7 linked regions of the Homo sapiens genome follow. The protein of the gene in region 7 purifies or fractionates together with the protein of the main gene of each other region. This does not show direct contact. Each region holds a gene or a part of one and is shown on either strand. Other genes may lie near its edges. The genes, in order: GNPTAB, XPO4, CNNM1, ZFC3H1, ATP8A1, FREM2 and SLC47A1.

Region 1 (3,500 bases), on a different chromosome or scaffold from region 7:
GTCATCAAATATTAGAGCTATAAATTTAGCATGGTAAATATGCACATTTCAAGTAGCCTTAGTTCTGAACACAAGCAAACAACTCAAACACGAGCAAGACTTACATATCTTGCAGTTCTTGCATAACAATCCGGTCAATCATGTGAGGCATGTGAGCAGGGACTTTCCGCGATGTGAATCCAAACTTGCTATTTAGAATTTTATTTACATATCTGAGGGAATCTGCAAATGTATCTTTTAGTTGCCTCCCAGTATTTTTGCTATCAGTGAAGTATGCCAATTGTGTCTTCAATGACTCTTCTTCCTGAAAAGAGAATTCTACATGTAACTCAGCATTATGTTTAGTGCACAAGTGTACTTTGTTACAAGACATTTTATATAATGTGGTAATAACTAGTCACGAACTCTTCATTAGGAGCAAATGAAATACATGTTAACGGGTCACTTTAAGGATCTAAACTGGACTTAGCAGGACTCAACTGGATTTCAGTGCAAGTATCACCAATGTTGGTTTGAGAACAACAGCTGTACGATGGAGATCTACATAACAACAGTCACATATGGAGGGTATTCTTCAAGGACTGGTCACTGACTGTGAGATGTCAAAGCTAATTCAATGCAACATTTAGAAAATTTATGTACATATACATTTGATAGTACTTTCAATATCAAGCTATTTCTGCAGGTGATATCAAATGTGCAAGTCCTTGAGTTTTAAGCGCAAGGACTAGAAACAAATTTGGTTTCATCTTATAATAGTTTTAATATTATAAAATCAAAACCAGTCAGTGGCAGAACTAAATAGGCAAAGAAAATTGGCAAAGCATTCAAACACTTTACAGAAATATTTTTGCTTCTCAAACTGATAAAAATAAAAATGTAAGGAGACTGATATTAACTGGTGTTGGTTAGACTGCAGTGAAACAAGCACTGTTGTATACTGTTTGTGGAAATATGAAGTGGTGCAACATTTCAGAAAGACATATTTAAAGTTTATACCTGCTAAGCTAGTAATTCTACCTGCAGAACTAAAACTCACTGAAATGTAAGATATATGTACAAGAGAATTCACTGCAACACTATTTGTAATCACAAAACATTGGAAATAACTAACCTGCAGCCATTAAAAAGAATAATGGCACTGGCATGGGTATAAATAAATAAATAAATAATGGCATTTGCCCACATCCTACTACATCAAAAGGCAACTGCAGGGAAATATATGTAAATTTACACTATACATATATTTCTCTATATATAACTATACATACATATAGGTATGTTTGCATAGCTATAGAAAAATACTGGAAGAATACCCATCAAACTATTAACAGCAATTATCTCCGGGAAGGAGACTGAAGAAGGAAGAACTTTCCTTTATTTACTGTATATTTTTGAATTGTTTGCAATTTTTACTACTAGCCTATAATGCTTTTGTAAATTTAAAAAAAAAAAAAAAAAAAAAGGAAAGAGGCCAGAGGCCAGGCACAGTGGCTCACGCCTGTAATCCCAGCACTTTGGGAGGCCGAGGCGGGCGGATCACCTTAAGTCAGGAGTTCGAGACCAGCCTGGCTAACATGGTGAAACCCCGTCTCCACTAAAAATACAAAAAATTGGCCAGGCATGCTGGCACATGCCTGTAATCCCAGCCACTCAGGAGGCTGAGACAGGAGAATCTCTTGAACCTGGGAGGCAAAGACTGCAGTGAGCCGAGATCACGCCATTGCACTCCAGCTTGGGAAAAAGAGCGAAACTCCATCTCAAAAAAAAAAAAAAAAGAAAGGAAAGGAAAGAAAATGGGGGAAACTGAGGAAATAAACATAGTCAAGAACACTGCAGTCCTTCACTAGACAATCTGTAAATGCCTCATGTGCAAGGCACAAGATACTTCCTAAAATGCTGAGGACATAGTTCCTCCTTCACTCTCTTTTCTCCCAGCCTAACACCCACTCGTGGCTGTGTGCCTTCACTATTCAGCCCAGACTGTATGATTTTTTTTTTTGGTCTGTCAACTCCCACCCCTTCGAAGGTCAGTCCACAGGGCACTTCCTTCTGTATGCCTTCCCTAGTACTTCTAGGCAGAGCTAAGGAGTCCTCCCTCTGAACTTCTTGCCCATATCTCAACACAGACACATCTCTTTGCTACAGTTTTCTCCCCACAAATTTGTCTTCTCTACTGGTCCCTGAGTTTCCACATGAGCAGTGGCTATGTTCCCGTCATCTTGCATTCCCCAGTGGTTAGCACCGTGAGAGCACTGAGGAGAGGTACAGATGACACCACAGCACAGTGAAGCCATGGTACAGGGCAACGAGCAGTCCAACTTTGAGGCTTGGCTCACACTGATTTGCTGTTATAATGTTGGGGAAGCGAATGAACTTAATTGAACTTCAGGGTTTTTCATCAGTAAAGCTGGAAAAATACCATATCTGAAATGTCAAGACAAGACAACATGCCACTTCCCACTCTCCTTCCTCCAAGTACGCCCCTGGCTAAATCCCTTACTCATTCACACTTGGGCTGTTTCCTAAACTACAAAATGGGGACAGCAATAATAAATACCTTCATATGACATTTTTTATTATTAGGGTTATTGGGTAAATTAAATGAAACCATGTAAGAAAAGCATTTAGTTCCATGGCCGGCACAGGGAAGTGCTGAATAAATGGTAGCTATAATGATATTATCATGAGATTATTTACTCTTCCTGAGCATGAGAAAGAATGAGGCTGGATGTTACTTACGTCGAGAAGATCTTGGAAATACTTTTTTTTCTCCCATGGCAAAAAGCCCAAGTAACTATCTGTGTAATGCTGCAGCTTTCTTCCAAGTAACACTTCAGTAACGCCTATGTGATTTTCAGCATTTTCCTCCATTCTACTGTTCTCTTTTTCTTTCCCTGTGATTTTCTTTTCTTTTGTCATCTGGCTTTCCAGTGGAACAATCAGAGATGGGGGCTTTTCTTTTGTCACATTTCCGCCTATGGTTTTTTGGGTGTGAGTTTCCACTCTAAATCTTGCTGTGGTCTCCAAGTCCAGGGGTGGATTCTGACCCTGGTCATGACCATTCACTTTTACACTCACTGCAGGAAAAGTCAACCTCTGCAATCTTTCAGACACTCCTAAGCTGTTTGGCAAGATGCTTTTATGAACCTGTTTTTCCTGTGGAGCCACCAAACTGTCATTTGTTTCATCTGTTATTATAGCTTGATTTTTTATTTTAGCATGCTGTGAGTTCATCAGAAATGATCTCAGCAAGGCTGACTTGGACAAATTGTATCCTTTCAAAGTGATGTCTCCATGTTCCAGTTGCAAATCCAAGGTATTGAGACTCAACTGGGCGTCTTTTGGAAGGAGTGAAATATTTACCAGGGGAATTTTCACCTCTTCCTGGGCTCTCCTTGTTGAGTTAACATCATGTCTCTTAAACTTCGGGAAGCGTTTTTCTTTGGGAATATCCTCAAAAAGGATTTCCGCCTCTGGAAGAAGTGTTATGGGACTAA
Region 2 (3,500 bases), on a different chromosome or scaffold from region 7:
CAATTAATTTTTCTCCCACCTCAGAAAAGGGTGAGGAGGAAAGAGAGATTTTGATTGACATTATATTCAATTTAGAGATGAATGAGGGAGAAATTGCCACCTTAACCGGATTGACCTTTCAGACCAAGGAGCATAGCCTTCATTTAATTCAGCTCTTTTATATTCTGCAAATAAGCTGTATCATGTTCTTCACAAAAATGGTGCATGTTTCTTATCAGTGCCCTATAATTTATTTCTACAGTTTTTCTTTCTAACAGAATGGGATCTTTTTTCCAATTTTAAGCTGATCACTGCTGATATAAAGGAAATCTTGCAACCCATTTATTTTTCTTACATCTGGTCATCTTTCCAAAGAACTAATGGTTCCAACAGTCTTAGTTATTTTGCTTAAACTTTTTTTCCGAAATGTCATATCACCTGCAAATAATCATTTTTTGGCCTTTCTTTCCAATATCTGCACTTATTCCCATTTTTTGTATTACTGTATCAGTTAGACCCTCCAGAAGGTATTAAATAACAGTTATATTAGGACTCCCGTTTTACTTCTGAGGATATCATCATTTAATACATGGTTTCAGATAACTATTTGTTATCATATTGAGAATTCCCTTCAATTCCTAGTTTATCCAATTGTTTTAATCATAAAATGCTGTTAAATTTTAACAACTGCCTTTTAGGCATCTATGGATGATTTCAAATGCCTTTTTGCATTTCTTCTCTGGATCACTGGCTATGTTCCAATTAGTGTGACACAAGTCCAACTGCAAATACACATTTAATTGAACTGAATTTGAAACATAAATTTCCTATTAATTAGCTTTTTTGAGAAAAAGAATGCTGTGCCAGTTTTCTAATATCTAGTGCCACCGCAGGTACTACAAGACAGGGCTGAAATAAACAAAAATGCATACTTACTATAATGCATCTTTCAAATAAGAAAAGTAGGTTCAATTAATTAAAATTTTCATTTTTATGACGTGTACTGTGGTTACAAAAAAATAAAGGCAGTGTACCTTACACATTGAAGGTCTCAGGAAATATCTACTACATAAATGCTCAAATATTCCTCAAACTCACTGTATTTCCCCAAACTATATTCTCTCAGACTATATTCCCCAAAATATATATCTCCACCTGGGATATTGCTTATCAAACTAGAAAACTCTAATCTATTTTTCATGATTCAGCTTAAGGGTTACCTATTCCAAGAAGCCCTTTCTCAGTCCCTATCTCAGCCTGAGATAGATGTTTGTACCTACTTCTATTATAACTTTACCAACCAACATTTGCTAATATTTTTGCCTTTCTCCACTCCTTGAAAAGAAGGTGCTTCTTCTGTCTCCTCAGCATACACAGCATAGTGTCTAACATGCTGTGTTTCTATATACTGAAGAAATGTTCTAAAACAAATCAATGGCCAGAAATTGGATTCCAGATCCAAACTAGCTACATGACAACAGGCAAATCATTTGCCATCTCTGAATATCAGGTTTTCATATTTATTTATTTATTTATTCTATTTTTTTGAGACAGAGTCCCGCTCTACAGCCCAGGCTGGAGTGCAATGGCACAATCTCTGCAACCTCTGCCTCCTGGGGTCAAGTGATTCTCCTGCCTCAGCCTCCCAAGTAGCTGGGATTACGTTATAGGTATGCACCACCTCGCCCAGATAATTTTTGTATTTTTAGTAGAGTCATGGTTTCGCCATGTTGGCCAGGCTGGTCTCGAACTCCTGACCTCAGGTGATCCACCTACTTTGGCCTCCCAAAGTGCTAGGATTACAGGTGTGAGCCACCATGCCTGGCCAGGTTTTCTCATTTATAAGGTTTAGGAATATCTCATCCTATTTACTTCACAGGACTGATATGAGAATGAAGACAAAAATTTTTCTATAGGACTACAGATGTGCAAGTATTTTAGAAGATATTAACCAGATTCCACTATAATAAAATCTATGAAAACCAGTCATGAATCTCGTTTATTAAAGTTGGATTTACACTCACTAAATCCATCCTGGTTTAAAAACAAATGTATGGGCCGGGTGCGGTGGCTCACGCCTGTTAATCCCAGCACTTTGGGAGACCAAGGTGGGAGGATAACCTGAGGTCAGGAGTTCAAGACTAGCCTGGCCAACGTGTTGAAACCTCATCTCTACTAAAAATACAAAAATTACCCAGGCGTGGTGCCAGGTACCTGCAGTCTCAACTACTTGGGAGGCTGAGGCAGGACAATCACTTGAACCTGGGAGGCAGAGGTTACAGTGAGCTGAGATTGTGCCATTGCACTCCAGCCTGGGCAAGAGTAAGACTGTCTCAAAAGAAAAAGGAAAAAAAAAACCTATGAAAATTACTTTTCTATAATGTATCAGTTAATATGTGTGCTCTGCACTATCTTATATTATTGCTACACACAATCACTAAGGACAATCCAAAACAACCTAATGAAGACAGGGCAACAAAACCAAGCAAATTCAAGACAATAAATAAAGCGCTCTTTGGACTGCAAATGAATGTGGCATCAATACTATAAGAACACTAAACTTTTCAATAATGTTGTCTCTAAAATCAAAACACCTCCTACATTTTAGTATACAAGAGGATGTGCATAGGTCATACACAATTACCATACCATATCATGTAAGAAACTCACCTGGGCACAGTAGCTTACGCCTATAATTCCAGCACTTTAGGAGGCCAAGGCAAGAGTATCACTTGAGCTCAAGACCAGCCTGGGCAACACAGTGAGATCCTCTCTACAAAAAAATATTTTTAAAAAATTACCCATTCAAGGCTGCAGTGAGCCATGATCATGCCACTACACTCCAGCTGGGACAACAGAGACCCTGTCTCAAAAGAAAGGGAGGGGATCGGGGGGACTTAAGTATCAATGCACGGTTGATGTCCATGGGTGGAGGCGGTTCCTGGAACTAACCTCTCATGGACACCGAGGGACAACTGTACTACTTTATCTGGCAGCTTATCCAATAATCTAAATTGATTGAATATAGATGTACCATATTTAGACATTTTCCATCAAGTAATAAAATGTAACATTTATAGTATATGTTGACTAAGAACCAACATGGTTGAGTAAAAAAAGTAAAAAAAAAAAAAAAAGAGTAAAGGTTTTGAAAGGGGAGTCTGGTGATCTCAGCCTGGATCAGTTATATCATGAATTTGCTCTGTGACCTACCTTGGGCAAGTCACTTCTACCTCTTTGAACCTCAGTTTCCCCATCTGTAGCATAGAAGGGAGAATGCTTAGACTTGATTCTTATTTTTCAGTTTCTAGTCTCTCAGAGACGGTGATAAAAGCTCTAGACCCTATTACTAAAAATGTACATTTACACCAAAAAATTTGTTACAATTTCCTTTTGATATTCATCCTAGACTCCCTAAGACTTCTGTACCAAAAGATCTAAGATTCTTCTATGTTCTAAAATTCTATGCTGATTTCCATAAAACAACTATATGAGTTACCTAATGAAAAATTAAGCAAAAA
Region 3 (3,500 bases), on a different chromosome or scaffold from region 7:
AGAGAAGGCACCCACATGCAAGCCAGGAAGAACGTCCTCACCAGAAACTGAGTTGGCCAAAACCTTGATCTTGGATGTCAAAGCCTTGAATTGCGAGAAAATAAATTTCTGTTGTTTAGGTCACCAGTCTATGCTATTTTCTAATGACAGCCTGTGCAGACGACAATGATTAATAGGATGAGGTGAATGCAAAGGAAAGCTTTCTAGTCTGGGAGACTAAAGGGACAAGTGGTGCCACTTACTGGGGACAGAGGCCCATGAAGAGGAAGAGGAGAGATTTGCTGGGATCAAGGAACAACATTAATTATTCCGTACTTAGGGTTCACCTCACTCAAACATAGAAATATAGAAGTTAGGTATTTAAAACCATTTATTCAATAAATGGTTATACATCCCCTAGCCATGGCGGTCACTATACTTGTCCTGAGAATACAAAATAAGTAAGATTCATTCTCTGTCCTCAAGGAACTTACAGTCCAGTGGTGAGAAATATTGTTCCCTTTTGTAAACCTCACACTCTAGTGTGAAAGACCATTTTCCTCTTCCCCACTTCTAAAGACTTGCAACTCATAAGAAGTAAAAAGATAAAATCCCATATCATCACCTGTAACTGCAGAGTTGTTTAAGATTGGACAAGAGAAGGTATATAGAAATGTTTTATCAAGTGCAATATGCATGTTAGCAATTACTGTAATTATAAAGCTACATTACTAACCTGCAGAAACTGGAGGTGAATCAGCCATGGGCAGCAATCAGAGGTGAAAAGGCTACCTTTGAACCCTGTGGGTGGCAGGAATTCCAGGATGGAGGAAGGAATAAGACAGGTGTAGCAGGGAAAGAACAGGCTTTCGGGTCCTACAGATGTAGTTCACATCACAGTTCAGTCAGTTATTAGTTATGGAAAGTTGTACAAGTCATGTTATTGATCCGAGCTTTAGTTTCTTCATCTGTAAAATGTAGTTAATGACATCTACCCAGGAGGGTTGTTCTGAGTATGTAAAGGGCCTGGCATGGTGCCTGGAAGAACTGTTGGTGCTCAATTAATGGTAACTGTGGCTCCTATTAATATCGTCATTTTCCTCTTCTACCTTCGAAGGGATTTGTTGGTGGTTACGTTACTTGAGAAGCAAGGAAGTAAGGAAAATGGAAGAGCTATTAAAGACCAGCTTTAAAAATTATTTTTTTCTTATTTATTTATTTATTTTGAGACAGAGTCTTTCTCTGTCACCCAGGCTGGAGTACAGTGGTGCGATCTCAGCTCACTGCAACCTCCGCCTCCTGTCTCAGCAATTCTCCTGTCTCAGCCTCCCAATTAGCTGGGATTACAGGTGTGTGCCACCACACCTGGCTAATTTTTGTATTTTTAGTAGAGATGGGGTTTCACCATGTTGGCCAAGCTGGTCACGAACTCCTGACCTCAGGTGATCCACCCACCTCGCCCTCCCAAAATGCTGGGATTACAGGCGTGAGCCACTGCGCCCAGCCAAAAACGTTATTTTTAAAGGTAAAGGAAAGCAGTTCAACCCAGCTTTCACCTCCTAACCTATGGTGCAAATGTATAACTCCTAAAGAAAATGACCACTATGTTATATGGCTTGCAGCCTGAGAACATCCACCTTGTTCATTATGTCTTATATTCTATCTTAAGTAGATCTACCAAACACTGTTAATAAGGGGTCTCTGAAGGCAATGCTTCTCAAACTTTAATGTTACATAGGAGCCACCTGGCAGCTTGCTAAAATGCAGATTTTCATTCAGTGGATTTAGGGTGAGGCATAAAATTCTGCATTTCTAATAAGTTCCCAGGTGAGACTCATGCTGCTGTTTCACGGACCTTACTTTGAGGAAGTAGCAAGGCTATGAAAGGAAGTGGAAATATCTTCCTTGGTATAGTATTCTCTGTAATGGCTTGCTTCTCTTTAGTGCTCTACCTAAATACAAAGTAGCTATTAATAGAACACTAAAGGAGCTTTTTTCGACCAGGTTTAGAAATTCTGCACAGGGATTCATTTCAGATCAATATCAACTTTTTGGAACAGCTTACTATTTACAAGGCAGTGTGTAAGGTGCTGGGGATATAAGAGTTGATATGACAATTCCTGCTTCGAAAGACTGCTCATTATGCCCTGTATATTGCTAACCTCCTGAGGACAGTCTTCCTGTCTCCCTTGTTGCCTAAAACTGTATAGATGTTTAAAAAATACTAAATGAGGCCAAGTGCAGTGGCTCATGCCTGTAATCTCAGCACTTTGGGAGGCCAAGGCAGGTGGATCACCTGAGGTCGGGAGTTCGAGACCAGCTTGGCCAACATGGTGAAACCCTGTCTCTACTAAAAATACAAAAATTAGCCAGGCGTGTTGGTGCACTCCTGTAATCACAGCTACTTGGGAGGCTGAGGCAGAAGAATCACTTGAACCCAGGAGACAGAGTTTGTAGTGAGCCAAGATGGCGCCACTGCATTCCAGCCTGGGCGACAGAGTGAAACTCTGTCTCAAACAAACAAACAAACAAACCTAAACAAATGAATGAATGAGTTCACAGGAGTTTCATTTAAAACATCTTCTGCCAGCACATGACAATGAGACACTATCTTAACTGCTCTGTATCTTAACTATCAGTTTTAAGAGGTGACTGAGTTAAAATGAGGCCATTAGGGTGGGCTCTAATCCAATCTGACTGGTGTCCTTGTTAGAAGAGAAAATTTGGACACACAAGGAGACACCAGGGATGCATGCATACAGAGGAAATACCATGTCAGGACACAGTTAGAAGGTGGTGACTGCAAGCCAAGGAGAGACGCCTCAGAAGGAACCAAACCTGCCAGACACCTTGATCTTGGACTGCTAGCCCCCAGATCTTTGAGGAAATAAATTTCTGTGGTTTATGCCACCCAATGCCCAGATCTAAGACCCTACTTCTGTAAGATATACAAAATGTAAGCATAATTCTAAGAGTGGATAGATGAACCTCAAGTTGCAGTGGGAACTATGAATGCAAGGATTAAGGCGAGATGGACTGAACAGGGTGAGACAGCAACCGAAAATGGACTAAAATAGCTGCCATATATACATTTCTCTCCCTTCTCATCATACCAACACAAAGTCTAGGGCTGTTCTCTCAAATCTGAGACTGAAAGTAGCTTTTAGACCTTTTTCCCCCCTTCCAGGCTACATTTTAATATTTAATATGATTTCAAAAATTGTGGCAGGAAAAAGACCCCAGATTTGTTTGTATTCAAAGTTCTAAAGATTATTTATGATGTTAAAGTAGTGAGATTGAATTTTCCCTTCCCTCCCTCCCTCCCTCCTTCCCTTCCTCTCTCTCTCTTTCTTTCTTTTTTGAGACAGGGTCTTGCTCTGTTACCCAGGCTAGAGTTCAGTGGCACAGTCATAGCTCACTGCAGCCTCGGGCTCAAATTATCATGACATTAAATTTTTGACAAAAAATTTATACAAAATGCAGTTAAATGAGAGTACTGCTAGCCATTAGGAAGCTATATC
Region 4 (3,500 bases), on a different chromosome or scaffold from region 7:
CCACTAAATACAAAAATTAGCCGGGCGCAATGGCATGTACCATAGTCCCAGCTACTCAGGAAGCTGAGGCATGAGAATCACTTGAACCCAGGAGGCGGAGGTTGCAATGAGCCAAGATAGTGCCACTGCACTCCAGCCTGGATGACAGGGAAAGACTTTGTCTCAAAAACAAACAAACAAAAAGCATATAATTAAACAACCTAGAATTCTAAACCCAGGGAAAATATCTTTTAAAAAGAGTAAACGGAAATCGTTTTCCACCCAGCAAAAACACATTTTTAAAAAAAAAGTCTAAAGAATGTATTTAAGCACAGAGCATGGTGGCTCACACCTGTAATCCCAGCATTTTAGGAGGCTAAGGCAAGAGGATCATTTGAGCCCAGGAGTTTGAGACCAGCCTAGACAACATACTGAGACCCCGTCTCTACAGAAATTTTTAAAACATAGCCGGGCATGGTAGTACATGCCTGTGGTCCCAGCAACTCAGAAGGCTGAGGTGGGAGGATCACCTGAGCCCAGGAGGTCAAGGCTGCACTGAGTCATGATCATACTCCTGCACTCTAGCCTGGGCAACACAGTGAGATCTTATCTAAAACACACACACACAGAGAATATATTTATACATATATAATTCCAGACATGATACAAAGAGTGAGCCAAGAAAGTGCTAAATATATAGGCAAAGCTAAGCAAATATCATTCTTTGTATTTCGGGGAAAGAGTAAGGTTCCTGATTAACTTTAAACACTGGTAGGAATATAAGACCAGAAATTTAGTATCCAACTTCCAAACTAGCAAATGAAAAAAAATTGTGTGAAGAAAAATAAGAGCCTAAAAAGAAAAAAAAGAAGAAGAAATAAAACCAAATGTCAATAATCATAAAAAATGTGAGTAGACTATACGTTCAAGCTAAAGGACAAAGATTGTCATACTGAATTATAAATTAAAACCAGCTCTATACTATGTACAAGTAATATCCGAGACATGAGGATACAGAAAGACTGAAAGAGTGGGAAATTATATAAAGAGAAAGATGATGTGGCTATTAATATAAGACAAAATAGTCTTTTAGGCAAAAACATCAGAGATAAAGTCACTACATAATGACTCAATTACCCACCTTCAAAGTATTTAAAGCAAAAAGTAAAAATCACAAATCCATCATCATACTGGCAAATTTTAACAAACTCCTCTTAGTAACTGATCAAGCATATCAAAAAATAAAAAAAGTGAACAACACAAAAAGCTCAAGTAATCTATAAATTCATTTCAAACATACACAGAACTCTTACAAAAAACTGATTACATACTGGACAATAAAGGAAGTCTCCAAGTATTTCAAAAGATTGGTTATCATAGCAATCTTATTTTCTGACAGTATGATTGACTTAGATATCAATAAAAAATACTGCTAGACAACCTACATGTTTAGAAGAAACATACTTCCAAGCAGCCTACAAGTCAATGAAAAATAAAAATTAGAAAATATTCAGAATGAATGAAAAAAGTTAAATAACCCAACTTGAGACAGAACTAAAGTCAAACTTTATGGCCTAAAATGATCTTAATAGGAGAGAGGCTGAAAACTGAGTTTAAAAACTTATGTACTTATTTCAGGGTAAATTAAAGAAGAGAGCAGGGAAAAAAAAGGTACAACTTATAAATACTACAGATAAAAAAGTAAAGGATTCTTAAGAACAATTTTTATAACTTCTGTAACTTACAGGAAATAGACACATTACAAAAAATATAGAGTTTACATAAACTGTCTTAACAGAAATAGAAAACACGAAGTTAGATTAAAACTTTCTCAGAAAAAAACTCCACCCAGGCCCAGACACTTTTATCAGCAAGATCTACCAAGTATCTCAGAATGTTTCCAATCTTAAACTATTACAGAGAATAAAGATGAAAACAGCCCCAACTAATTTGAGTATTATAACCTTACACTAAAAACTGTCAAGGAAAAAGAGGGGGGGGAAATTACAGGCTCTGAACACATAAAAAATTCTAAACAAAACACTAGCAAACCTTCATTTGTAATAGCCGAAAGTTGGAAAAACCCAAACATAATTGGGAAATGGATGAACTACAGTATGATGGGATACACAGAACTACTGACATATACAATTACATGAATGAATTTCAAACACATTATGCTCAATGAAAGAAGCTATAATGAAAGGCAATATACTGTATGATTCCATTAGTGTGACATTCTGGAAAAGGCAAAACTATAGGGACAGATCAGTGGTTACCAGGTGAACTAAGGGCTGAGGGACGGGATAACTACAAAGACACTTGGAGAAACTGTTTGAGGTTGATGAAAGAATTCTGTATCTTAATGGTAGCTGGTGATGGTTACCCACTGTCTACATTTGTCAAAACCTGAAGAACTACACACTTATTCATTTATAATGTTAAAAGATAAATTTTACTGTATATAAATTATATCTTAATAAAGAGGAAAAGAAAAAACAAGCCAAATCCATGATTTAAAAATGGTATATCATAAACTGTATTAAACGCAAGCATACAAGGGTGGTTTAATACTAGAAATAAATTATATAATTCATTACACTAACAAATTAAAATAAATTAGATGCTCATCCCAATAATGAAGAAAACAGATTTTGTAAACTTCAACATCCATTCACGCTGAAAATTTCAAACCAGGAATAGGAGTAAAACCCTCCTTTACCCGATAAGGGATACCTACAAAAAAATTAACATCATATTTAATGGTAAATGTCAAAACCATTTTCTTTAAATTAGGAAACAAAGGTGTCCACTATTATCACTTATGTATAACATTCTATTATAGAGGCCAGAATGTCAGGCAAAAAATAAATAAATAAATAAAGACTAAAAGTAAACAAAATTAGTAATTATTCAATGATATGAATGTCTACATAGAAAGTACAAAAGAATTTACAGATAATTACAATCATTTCAATGAAGTACACTGCCAAAACAAGTAGTTACTACTTTAGAGGAAGAAGAGTCATTACTAACTGAAATATTTAATTCCATTACCTTGACTAGAATCAGTAGTGTCGGATTTCAGGGAAAGTGGTTTTGCTCCATCTTTAACTTTTTTCAAACGGTTCTTATCTCCTGGTAAAGTCAATTTTTGCCTGAGTGGTTTTAATTCAAATGCCTGAAAAGTTTTGACTTGTGTTTTCTCCTCAGGAGCTACTTCTTTACTTGAATCCTTTGTAATACTGACATTATCAGTGCTAGTTTGGTCCTCGAAGTTCAATGTTTTAGGATCTTCCTGCACATTCTCTTCTTTGCTACTCAATGCTAGTTTTTCATCCTTATTGATGCATTCTAGTTCCAACTGTATTTGTTTATACTTTAAAAGCAAATCTTCAAAAGTTTCTTCCACACAGTTTTCATTTTTTGATGAATAATTTTGTTTTCTTGATGGAGACCTTCCAAAACTTTTGGCTGAACAGCATATTAAGGAAACCAGTTTCCAAAAATTTTCCACAGTT
Region 5 (3,500 bases), on a different chromosome or scaffold from region 7:
AGCATAAGCCTGCTGGGTTCATCCAATACTAAAATTATATAATTCTTTGAAAGATATTATTTTTGAAAATCAAAACAACAAAGTGATTATCTAGCTTACTTATGTGATTCTCACAATGAGTTACCCTATTATTGCTATAAGAAACTTCAATAAGTCTTACTTATATTTGTACATATCCTATTACGTAATTTTTCAGCCATATATCTCCTGCATGAAGTGAGCTACACCTGCAGCTCATTTTAGATTTCTAAATCACACTGATTTCTTACCAATGAATTAAGAGATTGACAGTTTAGGTAGATAATTCGCTACAAGAAGATAATGAGCAGTTACAAAAGTATGTCATATTTTTCGAAACCCTAATATTGTTCATATTGAAAGACTTTACAATGATTGAAAAAGAAAGAAACATCAAAAATAACACAAAGTTTCTCAAAATAAAAGAAAAATTAAATTTTCTGGCAGATTAGGCCCACAGATTTAATTTAGATAAATTCATTAATTTTAACTTTAATAAAAATAAAACTAAGACATTTAAAAACATTTAGAAAGTAGATGTCCAACATTTTTCTAATATTTAACAATATTCAAGAGAAAAATTATGAAGAAAAATTCAAGTGAAGCTAAAATTGTTTACAGTGTAGAAAATAACATGATATAACATGATAATCTGGTTGATATCAGTAAGAATTACAGTATTATTTGTATAGTGATTGATTATTTTCAAAGCTCTTTGCTATGTCAAGAGATTCCTTAGTCCATAAAACCACTGTAAGATGTAGGTAAGGCATATTATCCCTATGATTGTGTTCAAGAAAATAAGTTTCAAAATAAGTGACTTGAGAAAGTTGATACACCTAGTAAATTATAATACTAGAACCATAATTCAGACACTTAACTCCAAACTCATGGTTCTCCATCTCCCACGACCACCATAGGTTTCCTGAACTAGAGACCCATTTTCCCTACAATGTCTGGCCTGTAAACTTGTGTGATTCTGAGATGAGGAACTTTGCAACAAATTAGGTTCAAAAATCTGATACTGTGGTCAAGAAACGGTAGATATAATTAAAACCTTTTTTCTCCTGAGATATCAAAATATCCTAAGGACAAAATTATTTTGTAGGGTGATAACAATCATAATTCATATTTACCCAATTTATGAAGTATGCCTGGGTAAATTTCACAACTTCTAATGTAACCAATAAGCTGATAGGAATGAGATTGTTGAAAAGGATGATGAAGGTCAAGAAATTCAGTCCAAAATTACTAGCGCCACCATCTGTTGGGAGAGGCAGGAAGAACGTCATTTACAGTTTTATATTTTATTTGCATTGACCCCAAATTAGCATAATACAAGTTTTCCATACTACGCAGCTTATTTGATAATTTGGGAGGAACACTTTGCTGATAATCTATCCTAATTCTCAAGTACATCCTTCAAGATAGAATTGCATTGTGTTCAATATGTTGTTAATCCAGGTAAGAGCTGTATAAAAGTACTAAGACAGTGAAAGGACTGTCAAATATTGCAAACCCTCTTCCAAACACAAAGTTTAGAGACATCAGGGATAGCACTGAGGGTTTATAAATATAAAATCTCAATTGGGTAGAATCACTTTTATATAAATTCTTAAGAGTATTTCCAATTTAAAGCATACTTTAAAAGCAAACAAGACAGCAGCAGCAAAAACAATCCAAACTATATGAGTAATATTCAGTCCTAGGTAAATTATTCTCCTAGGTACATTATACTCTTCTTCCTCAAAATGAAAATAAAACTGCTATACCAGATACAATTATAAAGTATACAAAGAAACAGACTGATGGTAGTAACAGTTCTGATACTGAAATAATAAATCAGTAACTATAAAAACAACTTGGAATTGCTGCAAAGATAAATCAATATAATAAAAAAAATTTAAAAATACCAGTTTTTGCTATGTGATTGTACTAGAATTTGCTTTCACACTTTTGGAAGTTAAGTCTTTATTGGCTAAGTACTCATGAAATGAAAATGTAAACTCATTTGACAGAAATATCCAGGGGTGGTACATTAATATCACAATAATAAAAGGATAAATGCTCTAAAGGAAAACTATTTACTAGCACCTTCTCTAAGATAACATTTAATATAGGACTTACCACATTACTGAGTTCAAATGAAAATACATTGGGTTTAAACATTTTTAAACCATATAAACCACTTTTTGGTACTTTTATTTAAATAAAATATAAACAAAGTATATTTTATTTAAGATAAAATATATTTAAATATTTATATTATTTAAATATATTTAAAATATTTTATATATTTATAAATACATACAATATATATTTAAATATATATGTTTTGTTATATCCACACATGGTCAATCTACTTTCTTTACCATATAGTTAACCACCTATGTTAAAAATATTTTTAAGGAATAGTTTTCGTTGATATATATAATAAATGACTATACTTAGTGAACATTTTATACCACTATAGAGTGCTCATTATGTTTTTAAGGATTCTGAAATTTTAGGATTCCCAAATTTTACTTACACTTGCTAGAAATCTCACTGAAAAATAAAGATCAAATGTCCAGCTATCTTGGCAACAAGGTCTTTTTAGAAACAATACGAAATAAAGTAAATCAAGATCAATTGTGAAACAAATACATGTCTTAATCTAAAAAAGTGCAGTAAGCACTTTATTGCTTACAGTTTAGATTGAGATACCAGTCTTTTCCAGAATGCCTTCGATTCCAAATGGCTGAGCCCACAGAACAGACAAGAGACATGGCAATTAAGATACAAAATAAAATCAAAATTTGTACATTTGTAATCCGTTCCACATTTGAGAGCTTAAGTGGTGGACTTGTTGAATTCTGTAAAAAGAAACAAGATGAGTAATAAAAAATGTACACCAATGATTTAGCAATCTATACTTAGTATTCTGTTGAGGATGACAAAGTCACAACTCAGTATCTAGATGTGGGTGGATACGTGAAAATTATGTGAAACCCATGACAAATGTAATAAGGTGCCAATGGTTAACCACCTTTTTTTCAAGGCCACTACACCACCCAGGCCTTTTTCTAGGAAGTAAACTATAAGAAAGAAGAGAACGAAATTACATTCCCTTTGCAAAAATAGCTTTTGCATTGTGGCAGGTAAGATGAATAATGCATTACTTGGCTATGTAAGCAAACAGGGTAGTCTAGAAACATTTAGTGTTTCCGTTCAGGAAGACAGGCAGACAAGGCAGCCCATGCTCCCGCAAACAGGCACCTGGAAATTTGAACATAGGAAGGCAACATTTAAAGGATCTCCGGCTTTCAAATTTCTGGTGGCATTTAGCAATTGTTTTACTGAACGCAGCAACAATTTAAGTAGTCCTGGCTATAAAGAATAACAGAGGCAAGTTGCCTCAGTTGTATTTGATGATTCAAATGGTTATGTAGACCTGTGCTAACCAAAAAATCCATAGAACAGAAAATTAAATGTCAGAATGA
Region 6 (3,500 bases), on a different chromosome or scaffold from region 7:
ATGAAATGTAATATGTGCATACAATGGGCTGCAATTCATTAACAGGGGAATTAAGTATTGAAACGTGCTCAAACATGGATGCACCTTGAAAACATTATGCTAAATGAAAGAAATCTATCACAAAAAAACACATTTTGTATGATTCCATTTATATGAAATGTCCAGGATAGACAAATACATAAAGACCTAGTGGTTTCCAGGGACTGACGGGGAGGAGGGATTGGGGGTGACTGCTAATAAGTACAGGCTTCCTTTTGGAGGTGATGAAAATCTTCTAAAATTGATTGTGTTGGTTGCACAGCTCCTTAAATATACTAAGAACCATTGAACTGTTTACTTTAAATAGGTGAATTACATGGTATGTAAACTATCTTCATAAAACTGCTCTAAAGAGGATTTTGTAAGTATAGTATGCTCAAAATAATGCACTGTCTTAAGGATTTCTGGTACATATCCTTTGTTGCCAATGAAGGTAATTAGTAACAACTATTTAATCGATCCAAAATTAAGTGAGGGGAAAATAGTGTTATAAAATGCTGTCATTTCCTCTTCTCAATGATTACTCAAAATCTTCAGTTAAGCGAAAAGAGAAAATGGCTTGTACAAAATTAGGCCCACTTAGTTAACACTGAGTCATGTTGATTGATGTAATTTTGTTGTTTTAGGTCCTAAACCTAGTGCAGTCCTATGTGACCCTTCGAGTCCCTCTGTATGTTTCCTACGTGTTCCATTCCCCCGTGGGGGTAGGAGGCTGGCAGCATTTTGACTTGAAGTCAGAGCTTCGTCTAACTTTTGTGTACGACACCGCCATCTTGTGGAATGATGGAATTGGCAGCCCCCCAGAGGCTGAACTTCAAGGTGAGTTCAGAAGACTTGGAAAATTCTATAGTTTTGTAACCTATTTAAACTATTTAAGACGATTTTTTTTTGCCATTGCTAAAAGTAGTACTAGCAAATTTCAGTATATTTTCATTTTCTATCTATAATAAGATAATTTCACCTTTTTCATCAAAAAACTCTTTAAACCATATTAGGGCTTTAAATTTTGTGCAATATGTGATTATTAAATATGACTTTATATATTTCATGGATATTTTATCCTTGCGATCTATTTTAGGTGATTAATTATTTATGTGTTACATAACACAACATATATATTTTTCTGAATTCTAGAAAATGGATAGAGGAAGCTCCAACGAAAGCAAGAAATGACCAAGGGAAAAAGTTACACATTTTTATTTCTGAAAAAAAGAGGTGCATTTAAATTAAATACAAATTATGGCCTGAATTCTAGTCATGACTCTACAACTAACTAGCTGTGAGATCTCAAGCATATTGCTTAACCTTTCTGGGACTTAACTTTTTCTGAATGATAGACACAACTTCTAATATCTCTTTCTGATGTAAAATTCTATTACTCTGGGGTACTTTAGTTGAATGTCTGCGAACTCGGATTGTGAATGCCACTAGTTCGAGTTCGCGAGCATTTGCAAAACTTGGTTTCAATCTCCATGTTAGACTCATAGTTCAAAGTCCACAAGCATCAATCTAATCCATTAGTAGGACGAGTGCTTTTTCTTTTTCAGACATGTATTACTGTTCCGATTCCACAAACATCCATAGTGTCATGCCAGTACTGCATTTTACTAGCCAGCAGGAAAACAGAGTTAATAGTGCACCTCAAATGTAAATCTACTCTCTTAAGTGGATTAAAACCTATTTATGCTCTGTTCATTTTGTTGTTGTCTTTTTTTCTCCATGTTTCATTTTGAATAGTTTCTATTTTAGAGCTATGTGACAGGTAATATGATAACCCTGAGTTATGATTCCAAATTATTTCAAATGTTTTAAGTCCGTGTCTTGTTTTAGAAGATGTATATTTAAGTTAATCTTAATGAGGATTTTTCTGTGGTTCCCAACCTCCACATAGGATCTCTTGTTTCCATCTGATTTCTGGAGCCAAATTTTATCAAACTGCTAAATTTCTTGGGAAAGCTTCAGAGGTTTCTTTAAGTCTATAAAATTAGGAATAATTCTGGATAACTCAAACCTATTTCTATTTACATGTCCGAATCTCCATCATTTTGACAATTTTGTCATGCCTCTCAATTTACAGCTTCATTTTTATAAACTCAGATTTTAAAAAAACTTGGTCTATTGTAAGTAATCTGTGTATTTCATAGTGACTTCACTCATGTTACTTAATAATTCATTTTGGCTCCCTTTTCTGCTTAGAAAAGAAAATGAAGATACTTCTGCCTCTGTTATTCAGAATTCTTCTGATAATACCCTTTGCCCAGAATGTTTAAAGACAAGTCAAACCTGAATTAATTTTTGGAAGGAATCTGTACATAAGGGGTCTCTGGCTACATATATTTTCATTCTTGGTACTCTCCCCATTATAGGTTCTCTCTATCCAACCAGCATGCGCATCGGTGATGAGGGGCGCTTGGCCGTGCACTTCAAGACAGAGGCTCAGTTCCATGGCTTATTTGTGCTGTCACATCCCGGTAAGCCCCGTTATCTTTTAACAACCACTCCTCACACAAAAAGGAGGTAGATTTTCCATCTTCACACATTTCAGCGTGCTTCTCTGTTACCACTGAAGCCCTTAATCTCAAATGAATTGTACATGTGGGATTATCTCCATGAGAGCTTGATAATTGTTCAGCTTCACCTCATAATCCACAAAATTATCATTATGCAGACTTTCAGAGAAAATGCAAAATAATTAGAGTAAAATTAAAAGGAAACCCTATTGAGTTCATTTTAAGTAAAGTTTTCCTTAAAGAGCATAGGAATAATCATTTCTTTCTCTGCTTTGCTTCCATTGTACAAATCGAATTGCAGATGATTCATTCAGCAAGCACTTCTCTTTTCACAGCTTTTTGCTAGGTACTGTGAGAAACCCTTTTAATAGGGTCAGAGGAGGTACTTCACTTTCATATTTAAGTTTTGGACATGTTAATTATGTTTAATAAGTATTGGCTATGCAATTTTACTAACTGTGATTCGCTGTGCTTTGAATATCAACAAGGCAGCAGTCGATAAAATCCCACGTCTAACTTCATTTGTTTTTTGTTTTTTTTTAACAAGGACATTTCACTAGAAAGAGCTTATTTTTTATTTGACTCTCCATATTACCAGTTTAGTAACATGGAGAGTCAAATAAAAAATAAGCCATTTTTCTGCCAGCTTATATTAGATTGGGAAAGGGAAAATAGTTCACTCAACATCTTTATAGCTTTTCTTTTTCTGGACTTGAACTCTAACAAAAGAGAATAGGGCTGAATAATTAGGAAGAGAAAGAGGCTTCATTGTATTTTTATGGAACTGAGCTACAAGAAAGAAAGAACCCAAAAAAATCATTTTGCTTTATTGTATTTGACAGTTCTGGAAAATGAGGATTTTCTGGTCTATACAGTTTTCTTCTACATGCCTACCTTTCTAATAAACTGAATCTTTGTGTAGCCATGATTGCAGGCAATCTAACTAAAATC
Region 7 (3,500 bases):
CTACAACTGGTGAGCAACCGGGCAGGCAAAATTATTCCTAGAGCTTCAGCAAGTTCTCTCAGCAGTTATGGACAAAGCTGGTCCCAGCTTACAGCACGCAGTTTCACCAGCTGGATGTGCAGAGAATTACATTACTAGATTAATGTTATGTGCCTGAGGTGCTTTTATCCCTGGCTTCTTGACTTTTGATTGGGTGTGATAAGAATGACTTAATTTGGTGTAATCCACTTTCACAGCACTGAGCATACTTAGTATGTACTGAGGGTTGCTGAATTAACGGTGTGTACCGCACCCCAGGAAGGCTTAATGAAGTAGGATTACTGCTTAAGCTAAGACCTTTATTAAAATTTTGTCCTCTGGCCAGTCGTGGTGGCTCATGCCTATAATCCCAACACTTTGGGAGGGCAAGGTGGAAGGATTGCTTGATCCCAGGAATTCAAGACCAGCCTGGGAAACAAAGGGTAGACCCTGGTATAAAAAATTAGCTAGGCGTGGTGGCACACGCCTGTGGTCTCAGCTACTCAGGAGGCTGAGGTGGGAGGATCACTTGAGCCCAGGAGGTTGAGGCTGCAGTACGTCACGCACACACCCCTACCAGGAATTATCAGTCTTTGTTTGGATTTCCACAGCTCGAAAGATTTCCCAACTGTTTTTCAGTGTCCACAGTGCCTAGATCTAGACCTCAAATGAAGATTAACAAATGCCAGCTGGGCATGGTGGCATACCCCTGTAGTCTCAGCTACTCTGGTGGCTGACACAGGAGGATTGCTTGAAGCCCAAGAGTTCGAGGCTGCAGTGAGCTATGATCGCACCACCGCACTCCAGCCTGCATGACAGAGCAAGACTTCCGTCTATTAAAAAAAAAATTAAAACAAAAACAAATACCATTTGCCCAGTGAATAGTAATCTAAGGCCCAAGGAAAGATATACTGTAAAATATATTTTACATAATTCAAGCAGTATGAATTCTTAAGCAGTTAGTTTATGGGTTTGTGTCTAAAAAAATAGCAGAAGTATCAAAGCCATTGGCCAATGCAGTCAGCACATTGATCCTTGCTTGGTTCAGATAGTGGTGAATTACTACTCATGTCATCTTTCAGACAGTGTCTTGGGCCACAATATAGCTTTTAACCTTAGTTGCTTTTTCTTTTTATAGAAAAATGTGTCTTTGCATTTCCAGCCCTCAAAATCCATGGGCACACCTGAATGACATTAACTCACAGTAAATTGTCACTGGTGGGCCTGTGAATTGTGTGTAAGCTCAAAAGCATCACTTGACCTGACTTTCTTTCCTACCACGTCACTGAATTCTGACATAGAATCTCACTAAAATCCCCACCAGCAAGATTAAGAAGACCCCCAGGAGCAGAAGCCCTCGCCGCAGCACCAGCTGTTTCCTGGACAATTTAGCGCCGTCCTGTGGATGTTCCGGCAAAGGTTCTTCTTGGCGCATCTGCTGATCTGACTGAGGCTCGCCTGTCTTTCCAACATCGTTCGTTAAAATTCCTTCAAGGTTTTCAGGGCACCCTGGGAGGAAAAAGGAACTTAGCAGCTTAAAAGGGATTTTTTTTTTCATTTTTATAAAGGGCTATGTATAAAAGGAATATGTGCTAATAGTGGAGAGAAAGTTAATTCAGGACACTATTGCTACAGTGAATAAATAAAAGAAATCTTATCGCAGAGTGCCCCTCCACTCACTCCTTCACGAACACCGATGATCCTACCAGCGCTGGCTTGGGTGCTCCAGGGAGCACTCTCCCAGGAGCTAGAGAAATAAGGTAGCCCTCTCCATTAAAATTCACAGGGAAGCCGGGCGCGGTGGCTCATGCCTGTAATCCCAGCACTTTGGGAGGCTGAGGCAGGCAGATCACCTGAGGTTGGGAGTTAGAGACCAGCCTGACCAATATGGAGAAACCCCGTCTCTACTAAAAATACAAAATTAGCCGGACATGGTGGCACATGCTTGTAATCCCAGCTACTCAGGAGGCTGAGGCAGTGAGGCAGGAGAATCGCTTGAACCCAGGAGGCAGAGGTTTGGGTGAGCCAAGATGGTGCCATTGCACTCTAGCCTGGGCAACAAGAGCAAAACTCCACTCCAAGGGAAAAAAAAAAAAGGATTCACAGGGGAAATTTTCAAGGAGCCAACACCCATCTAATAAGCATTTCAGAACAAAACACAAGGAGAAACAACCTAAGAAATAATTCAAGTCTGGGTGCGATGGCTCACGCCCGTAATTCCAACACTTTGGGATGCTGAGGTGGGAGAATCCCTTGAGCCCAGGAGTTCAAGACCAGCCTGGGCAACATAGTGATACCTCATCTCTACAAACAAAAACTTTGCTGGGCCTGATGGCGTATGCCTATAGTCCCAACTACTTGGGAGACTGAGGTGGGAGGATCACTTGAGCCCAGGATATCGAGGTGCAGTTAGCTATGATTGTGCTACTGCAGTCCAGCCTGAGTGACAGAGAGAGACCCAGTGTCAAAAAAAAAAAAAAAAAAGGAAGGAAGAAAGAATACAAGGCTATTCACAGAATGGGAGAAAGATGTGACCGTTCACATCAAAGGGCCTACTAAGTATTGAAGGATTGCAGAGAATTTCACCCCAAGATATGGCTCCCTGGTATAATGAGTATTTTAAATTAAAAACTCTTTGGAGATCAACAGGCCTTGAAAGAGACTTTTCCCCATCTACATAAAAGCCAGACAAACCCACCAAGAAGAACAATTGCCAAACCTTTTACAAAATAATGCCAGTCTCTCAGGTTCATTCAACTTCCAAAGGGAACCAGTCTGTCCACCCTGCCCCCAATCCATTCATTCTGCAAAATATTCAATCATTTTCCCTAGTACTCATTTACTATCCCTCAACAGAAGCACCAAATGCCCTATCTCCTCTCTCCCCTCTGAAAGTTGGTTATATGAGTGTTGGGCCTCACTGGGATGTTGGGTAATGACTGTGATTCTTCCCTTTTGCATGGTTAAATACATTTGTATGCCTTTTCTCTTATTCATCGGCCTTATTATAAGTTGATTTTTCAGTGAACCATCGGAGGGCAAGGGGATAGCTTCTCCTTCACCCCAACAGTTTCAAGCAGATAATGATTCACACCTAGACTTAGTCTCAAGACACTTCAGAACAGTAAGAGTAATAGGCCAGGCGTGGTGGTTCACACCTGTAATCCCAACACTTTGAGAGGCTAAAGCAGGAGGATTGCTTGAATCCAGAAGTTCAAGACCAACCTGGGCTGCAAAGCAAGACCTGGTCTCTACAAAAATATTAAAGAGTTAGCTGAGCATAGTGGCACGCACCTGTAATCCCAGCTACTCAGGAGGCTAAAACGGGAGGACTGTTTGAGCCTAGGAGTTTGAGACTGCAGTGAGCTATAATTGCACCACTGCACTCCAGCCTGGGTGACAGAACAAGACCCTATCTCAAAAAAAAAAAAAAAGGAATAATAATAAGAAAATGTCCTAAAAGCTTCCGAAGAGAAAAATGA

The links.
Region 1: the proteins of SLC47A1 (region 7) and GNPTAB purify together in Homo sapiens (affinity purification with mass spectrometry; one large-scale study listed by BioGRID and IntAct). This does not show direct contact.
Region 2: the proteins of SLC47A1 (region 7) and XPO4 purify together in Homo sapiens (affinity purification with mass spectrometry; one large-scale study listed by BioGRID and IntAct). This does not show direct contact.
Region 3: the proteins of SLC47A1 (region 7) and CNNM1 purify together in Homo sapiens (affinity purification with mass spectrometry; one large-scale study listed by BioGRID and IntAct). This does not show direct contact.
Region 4: the proteins of SLC47A1 (region 7) and ZFC3H1 purify together in Homo sapiens (affinity purification with mass spectrometry; one large-scale study listed by BioGRID and IntAct). This does not show direct contact.
Region 5: the proteins of SLC47A1 (region 7) and ATP8A1 purify together in Homo sapiens (affinity purification with mass spectrometry; one large-scale study listed by BioGRID and IntAct). This does not show direct contact.
Region 6: the proteins of SLC47A1 (region 7) and FREM2 purify together in Homo sapiens (affinity purification with mass spectrometry; one large-scale study listed by BioGRID and IntAct). This does not show direct contact.

Annotation. Positions count from the first base shown.
Region 1 is NC_000012.12:101,761,460-101,764,959, forward strand, and holds part of GNPTAB (N-acetylglucosamine-1-phosphotransferase subunits alpha/beta precursor), read right to left. Parts: coding exon 2,743-3,500; intron 305-2,742; coding exon 105-304; intron 1-104. UniProt on the Homo sapiens protein: Catalyzes the formation of mannose 6-phosphate (M6P) markers on high mannose type oligosaccharides in the Golgi apparatus.
Region 2 is NC_000013.11:20,896,247-20,899,746, forward strand, and holds part of XPO4 (exportin-4), read right to left. Parts: intron 1-3,500. UniProt on the Homo sapiens protein: Mediates the nuclear export of proteins (cargos), such as EIF5A, SMAD3 and isoform M2 of PKM (PKM2). In the nucleus binds cooperatively to its cargo and to the GTPase Ran in its active GTP-bound form.
Region 3 is NC_000010.11:99,332,356-99,335,855, reverse strand, and holds part of CNNM1 (metal transporter CNNM1), read right to left. Parts: intron 1-3,500. UniProt on the Homo sapiens protein: Probable metal transporter.
Region 4 is NC_000012.12:71,653,849-71,657,348, forward strand, and holds part of ZFC3H1 (zinc finger C3H1 domain-containing protein), read right to left. Parts: intron 3,454-3,500; coding exon 3,037-3,453; intron 1-3,036. UniProt on the Homo sapiens protein: Subunit of the trimeric poly(A) tail exosome targeting (PAXT) complex, a complex that directs a subset of long and polyadenylated poly(A) RNAs for exosomal degradation. The RNA exosome is fundamental for the degradation of RNA in eukaryotic nuclei.
Region 5 is NC_000004.12:42,577,106-42,580,605, forward strand, and holds part of ATP8A1 (phospholipid-transporting ATPase IA), read right to left. Parts: intron 2,874-3,500; coding exon 2,708-2,873; intron 1,283-2,707; coding exon 1,155-1,282; intron 1-1,154. UniProt on the Homo sapiens protein: Catalytic component of a P4-ATPase flippase complex which catalyzes the hydrolysis of ATP coupled to the transport of aminophospholipids from the outer to the inner leaflet of various membranes and ensures the maintenance of asymmetric distribution of phospholipids.
Region 6 is NC_000013.11:38,872,077-38,875,576, forward strand, and holds part of FREM2 (FRAS1-related extracellular matrix protein 2 precursor), read left to right. Parts: intron 1-665; coding exon 666-858; intron 859-2,405; coding exon 2,406-2,510; intron 2,511-3,500. UniProt on the Homo sapiens protein: Extracellular matrix protein required for maintenance of the integrity of the skin epithelium and for maintenance of renal epithelia. Required for epidermal adhesion. Involved in the development of eyelids and the anterior segment of the eyeballs.
Region 7 is NC_000017.11:19,575,354-19,578,853, reverse strand, and holds part of SLC47A1 (multidrug and toxin extrusion protein 1), read right to left. Parts: intron 1,528-3,500; coding exon 1,301-1,527; 3' UTR 1-1,300.